Linked DNA regions of Homo sapiens. The protein of the gene in region 1 interacts with the protein of each later gene in a pairwise test. Each region holds a gene or a part of one and is shown on either strand. Other genes may lie near its edges.

Region 1 (4,135 bases):
CAGGAAAAAAAGAACGCCTAGAGACTGCTGTCCCTTTTTTTCTTGACAGAGCTTTCAAAGACCTTGGGGGTAAATCTCGCAAGAATTCTGTCCAATAAACAAGCTCATGCGTTACCGAGTTACGTCACCAGCTGACATCCAAGGAGAAGTCCAAGGTTAATTGCTATGGTTTAGTGGACCATTCCAAATGACCCTGTGCAAGAAGCTTTCACTCCAGAACTGTTTGAACTTCACAGCCTGAAATTTCATCTACTTGTTTCATGAGTACTTTTTAATTACTCCCCTGGGGGTATTAATAATGTTTTCTTTATTAAATAGTTACTCTCTGGAAGGGATAGTGGTTTCATGTTTTTCCCCGTTCTTTGAGATAACTAAGTCCCTGCCTGGTTAGCCCAGGGGCACTTTGATTTTCTTTATCTTAAGTTATTAAGGGAGAAAACAGAGATCAAGATAGACCTCTAACAACTCAGGATTTGGAATCAGACTGCTTCGTTCAAATCCCAACTCCACCATTTAGCTAGCTGTGCAAAAGTGGACAAGTTATTTCCCTCCCTAAGGCTCAGTTTCCTCACCTGTAAAGTAGGAATAGTAACAGTACTAATCCCTAAGTCCATTCTTCCGATGGATGGAAATGGATAATGTATGTAAATATTTACCTTGGAGCTTGGCACGTGGTGAGCATTCAAAAATTGTTTTTACAATATTTTTAAAAATACTATTGTTTTGACTATGAGAACAATTTCGGAATTGTTGTGTTCTCTGATCCCACAGTAAGTAAGGTACCAATGAAGTAGGAATATTTAACACCTTACTTTTATACACAATACAATGCTCTGAGGCAGCAGCACCATCCCCGTCATGCATAACTCATGAAGTGCTGGGCTGAATTCACAGAGCACCTTTGCAATTTATAGGGCAAAAATTAGGTGCCGTGAAGAATACACAGAAGTATGGATACAGCCACTGCCCCCCAGGGAACTGACCATCCAGTTAGGAGACACACACACAAAGAGATCACCGCAATGATGCCTTGTACTGTTAAGTGGCCAAAGACGTACAGTTTCTTATAGTATCTTTTATGGTGGGCAGAAGAACGCCCTGCATTTTGGGGAAAGCTACAAGTGCAGAGATTTGCCCCCGTGGTAAGACAGCAAATCAGTGAGAGCTACAGAGTAAGGTTGTAATATCATATTCATTTGGGTTAAAATGGAGGTGCTGTGGTAGCAGTGGCCTGACTTAAAGAAGGACCAGTGATATCAAACAGTAGCTGCTTGGCTTTGGAATGACACCATCATTGCCATCTTAGAATCTGAGAATGTTTCAGTCAAGAGGAAACCTTGAAAAAGCCTCCTTGTCACTCAGTCCACTTACAGTAGGAGCAGCAAGGCCTGTTCTTACACATGCGGGCTCCGGCTCATGCATCCACCTGATGCTCTCAAGGCTGCCAGAGGAAGGAGGAGGAGGGCTAGGGGAGGAAGCCAAGGGTATCCCACAAAGGAGATGACCACTGATAACTACCATGGATGAAATGGCCTAAGTCACTTCTGTGTCTTAGCCTTTCCTTTCAAATTGCCCCCTCCCCCTCCCATGTATCATGGGCATCACAGTCACAAAACACAAGAAATCAGAAGTCTGGAGACATTCCCCCTGTCCAATGCCCAAATCTAGGTCCCTGTTGCTTTCTTCCTGACCTGCTGGCCCACAACCACAGGTGGCCTCCAGAATTAATCCAAATGAGAGTCTCTGCCCTTCCAAAACATCTTAAGTGGATCATTCATCTCAGGCCACCTTCAGTGACAGGAAGGGGATTGAGGTCTGCGGAGAGCAAAACCTAATTCGGCCCTGTACCTGGATGCGGATGGGGTGGGGGAGGCGCGACGGGAGGCTGGGTACTCCAAGTTCAGCTGCGGGAGACGCCCCTCGCCCCCACCTGGCAGCCACAGAGGGTCGCCAGCCTAGGGGAGATGGTTCCTGCTGTCTTCAAATGAGCCCACCAAACCCCAGCCCGTGGGTATCGCAGCACCTACCTTGACCCAGGAGACCGTGTAGGGAACCTGCGGATCCCAGGGGGCGGTGCAGGGCAAGTCCACATCTTCGGAGCAAGCCACCTTCACCTCCGGCGTCGCGGGAGCCAGGCTGTAGGCTACAAGAAAGAGAGAGCGCGTCGTGAGCAAGCGACCGACGGGAGGGGGTGTCGTGGAGGGGCGGGGGGCGACAGGCGAGACAGGCGCTCGCGAGCCCTACCGCAGCTCAGGAGCAGAAGCTGGAGGCCGCGCGACATGGCTGGAGCGCTGCGCCGCTGCCACGAGCTGCAGAGCTGTGGCGCGCGGGCGCCGGCTGCCCTTTTATGCCCGCGCGTTCGGGAACTTCCCTGCGCGCCAGCCCGGGGGATTCCCCGGCGGGCAGCGGAAGCGGGTGGCGCGCCCTCCTAGTCCCGCTTAGGCCGGGGCGCCCCCGTCCCCGCCCCCTTCGCCCCCGTCCCCGCCCCCGTCCCCGCCCCCGTCGCACCCGCCGCCCTCGCCGCGTGCGCGTCCCCGCCCCCGCGCGCCCGGGCCGGGCGCCCCGAGTTCGCGTCGCTGCTGCGGCTGGCAGCGGCGACAGCAATCCCCGCGTGACGCCCAGCGCTGGGGGCTTTGCAGACCGCGCTCGCGCGCGTGACGCTGCCGTTGACCCGCAAAAGGAAGCCGGGAACCGGGCCATCCGAGCGGGATCTGCCCATTTTACGGAGGCCAAACCAGATTCCGAGAGGGTGGGCAACTTCCTCAGAAGCCCAGCCTGTCCTTGGGAACGCACTGGTGAACCCAAGTCCTCACTCTTCTCCAGAATCTGTGATAATCAAAGGCGCGTTAGATTTCCATGGAAACATACAAGTCTGTAGTACTTGGCTCCCTGCCTTCCCCGGGAGGTTATCAGTCAGTACCGTCCTGTTTAAATTATATCACCAAAGGAGAGTGTCTCCTATTAAAATAATAATTACACGCATACACAACATTTTTGGAAAAGAAAATTCTAGAAGACAATGAAATCACCTGTAATTCATCCAGGAAGTAACTTCAGTTAACATTTTTTTATATTATAAAATGTTTATAACATAACATAACGTAAAATATTTATAACATTTGTCAGTGCACAGATTGGTATTTTTAATGGTTTATTCTTCCTGCTATCTTGTAACCTACTTTCTTTTAGCTTAATAATTTGCAAGCGGTTCCACATCATTAAAAACTTCCAACAGCATCATTTTGGTCCATTGTTCAGTTGCACCATAAATTAGAATCGATTAGTGTTAGACATACAGGTTGTTTCTTTTTGTATTACTAATATTAGAAACAATACTGTGATTGCTATGGGAAACTTCAGTGTAGATAAATCTTTGCTCTAAAATTGCTTATTTTCTTAGAATAAATACCTCAAGGAAATTGTGCTAGGTGAAGGGGAGTTTCCAATTTTGTCAAATATTGCCAAAAAATTACCTGCAAGGAGGTGTCTTCAATCTATATTCCCATCTGCAAAGAGAGTGCCTGTTTGCCAACACAAACTGTTATCCAACCTTTCTATCTTTGTCCATCCAAGAGGTTAAAAAGAGTGGCATCACTATACCACCAGTTCTAATCTGCTCTTGGAAGTAGTTATATCAATTGACAGTCCCGCCAGCTTGTGTGAGTACCTTTTCTCCAGCAGCCTCACCAAATTAATTTTTTAATTGTGAAAATGTTAAGCATACAAAATAAGTATAGAAAATATGGAATTGAACACATCTGTATACAATTTATTCTTGAGAAATAAAACAGTACTAACATTTTCGAGACCCTCTTTTTTTTTTTTTTTTTTTTTTTTTGAGACGGAGTCTCGATCTGTCTCCCAGGCTGGAGTGCAGTGGCCGTGATCTGAGCTTACTGCAAGCTCCGCCTCCCGGGTTCACGCCATTCTCCTGCCTCAGCCTCCCGAGTAGCTGGGACTACAGGAGCCCGCCACCACGCCCGACTAATTTTTTTGTGTGTGTATTTTTAGACGGGGTTTCACCGTGTTAGCCAGGATGGTCTTTTGAGACCCACTATGTGTCCTCTGCCAGATCTCATACCTAGCCATTTATGCTTCTTTTCAGTTTTTCCTGATTATAAACAATGTTGCAGGG
Region 2 (2,679 bases), on another chromosome or scaffold:
TGTTCACTGTTGATTTAGTAATAATTATAGTATCATAATAAATAACAATATAATAATATAGTAATGCTCCTGTAATTTAGTAATAACATACCTGACTCGCTCTCAAATATTTTAAAAGTAATTAACCAAGAATATCGCAAAAATGAAGAGTAAATTGTGCTGAAAGGAAAAGGGTGTATAATTAATTTCCTATTTTATTCTCAAGTCTATGTTTTTTAATATAAAGACTAATAACCCTAAATTTTTAAATGTATTTCTTGTGAGTAAAAGTTAATGACTACTTTTTTCTTCTTCTTTTTTTTTTTCTTCTAGGAGGGTATACAAGGAAAGGTTAGGACTTCCTCCAAAGATAGTGATTGGTTATCAGTCCCACGCAGACACAGCTACTAAGAGCGGCTCCACCACTAAAAATAGGTTTGTTGTTTAAGAAGACACCTTCTGAGTATTCTCATAGGAGACTGCGTCAAGCAATCGAGATTTGGGAGCTGAACCAAAGCCTCTTCAAAAAGCAGAGTGGACTGCATTTAAATTTGATTTCCATCTTAATGTTACTCAGATATAAGAGAAGTCTCATTCGCCTTTGTCTTGTACTTCTGTGTTCATTTTTTTTTTTTTTTTTGGCTAGAGTTTCCACTATCCCAATCAAAGAATTACAGTACACATCCCCAGAATCCATAAATGTGTTCCTGGCCCACTCTGTAATAGTTCAGTAGAATTACCATTAATTACATACAGATTTTACCTATCCACAATAGTCAGAAAACAACTTGGCATTTCTATACTTTACAGGAAAAAAAATTCTGTTGTTCCATTTTATGCAGAAGCATATTTTGCTGGTTTGAAAGATTATGATGCATACAGTTTTCTAGCAATTTTCTTTGTTTCTTTTTACAGCATTGTCTTTGCTGTACTCTTGCTGATGGCTGCTAGATTTTAATTTATTTGTTTCCCTACTTGATAATATTAGTGATTCTGATTTCAGTTTTTCATTTGTTTTGCTTTTGTTTTTTTCCTCATGTAACATTGGTGAAGGATCCAGGAATATGACACAAAGGTGGAATAAACATTAATTTTGTGCATTCTTTGGTAATTTTTTTTGTTTTTTGTAACTACAAAGCTTTGCTACAAATTTATGCATTTCATTCAAATCAGTGATCTATGTTTGTGTGATTTCCTAAACATAATTGTGGATTATAAAAAATGTAACATCATAATTACATTCCTAACTAGAATTAGTATGTCTGTTTTTGTATCTTTATGCTGTATTTTAACACTTTGTATTACTTAGGTTATTTTGCTTTGGTTAAAAATGGCTCAAGTAGAAAAGCAGTCCCATTCATATTAAGACAGTGTACAAAACTGTAAATAAAATGTGTACAGTGAATTGTCTTTTAGACAACTAGATTTGTCCTTTTATTTCTCCATCTTTATAGAAGGAATTTGTACTTCTTATTGCAAGGCAGTCTCTATATTATGTCTTCTTTTGTGGTGTCTTCCATGTGAACAGCATAAGTTTGGAGCACTAGTTTGATTATTATGTTTATTACAATTTTTAATAAATTGAATAGGTAGTATCATATATATGGAATTAAATTGATGTGGCTATCTTTGTTTTTTTATAAAGTAAGGCACAGTCATTCAGTCTTAGGTAAATAATGTACTCTCTTAATATGTTAATACTCATGAGAATTGGGATCTGATGCATCACCATTTGATTGGTAGCAACAGTGGTTGTAAAACTTGGTTGCTGAATTGAGTTGTTTCTATGTTAAGTGTCAAAATGATAGTGTAGGGAAAGTACAGGTGGTGGGGACATATGCATTAAGAATCTTGTTAGTGTTGCAATCTAAATAGAATGGAATAAACAGGTGTTAAGACATATTTATAGTGGTAAATTGTTGTAGTATGGTATTCTGTAAACTTGAAAACTTGATCTACTCTTTGTAGGTATCATTTGAAAGCAAACTTGAAAATGTTTTGTACATAGTACATACTTGTATAGTCCTGTGAGATGAAGTATGGCTATCAGACCAAAGGATAAGCCAAACTGTAGGTAGCAGAATGGAAATTATTATTTTGAGAGGAAAATTTGTCTTTGAATGGTGATTATGACTTAATCATTTTAAAACTGATAAACTTGACAAAAACCCTGTATGAAATAAACATGAAATTAATAGCACTGATTTCATTGTAAAATTTTAAAGCAGTTTAAAGGGTACCACAGGTTATCACAGTACTCTCAATGCCACAAACACCTCTTGTTCAGTATTCTAGAAATACTGAATCAGAATTCTGTGTTTATTATAATCTCAGCATACTGTACATAATATCTGCTAGTTAAACTTGGGTAATTGGTTAAGGTGACTTACTGTCTATGTCAATATGTATAGTTTTGAGTACTTCAAGAGTTTACTTAAAAGTGATGATGTTACTGGTATGTTGGCAGTGGGTGGGACTGAAGTAGTGTATCTATTATAAATTGATCTATTTTCTTAATTCTAAGATGAAGTCCAATTTTAAGCATCAGCTTTTAGGTGCAAAGGAGGAATTAACACATTAAATGTATACAGTTCTAAATTTTTGAAATAACTGATGTGTAGCATTTGATTATTGGTATTACCATTTTAGAATCATGATGTTATTTTAAACCTTTTTCCTGGGGACAAGAAAGGATAATAA

The links.
Region 2: the proteins of CD83 (region 1) and EIF4E interact in a two-hybrid assay, tested with the Homo sapiens proteins (one large-scale study listed by BioGRID and IntAct).

The regions. Positions count from the first base shown.
Region 1 is NC_000006.12:14,115,958-14,120,092, reverse strand, and holds the start of CD83 (CD83 antigen isoform a precursor), read right to left. Parts: upstream 2,322-4,135; 5' UTR 2,282-2,321; coding exon 2,245-2,281; intron 2,144-2,244; coding exon 2,028-2,143; intron 1-2,027. UniProt on the Homo sapiens protein: Transmembrane glycoprotein predominantly found on the surface of many immune cells including dendritic cells or lymphocytes that plays various roles in immune response regulation.
Region 2 is NC_000004.12:98,878,776-98,881,454, reverse strand, and holds the end of EIF4E (eukaryotic translation initiation factor 4E), read left to right. Parts: intron 1-312; coding exon 313-427; 3' UTR 428-2,179; downstream 2,180-2,679. UniProt on the Homo sapiens protein: Acts in the cytoplasm to initiate and regulate protein synthesis and is required in the nucleus for export of a subset of mRNAs from the nucleus to the cytoplasm which promotes processes such as RNA capping, processing and splicing.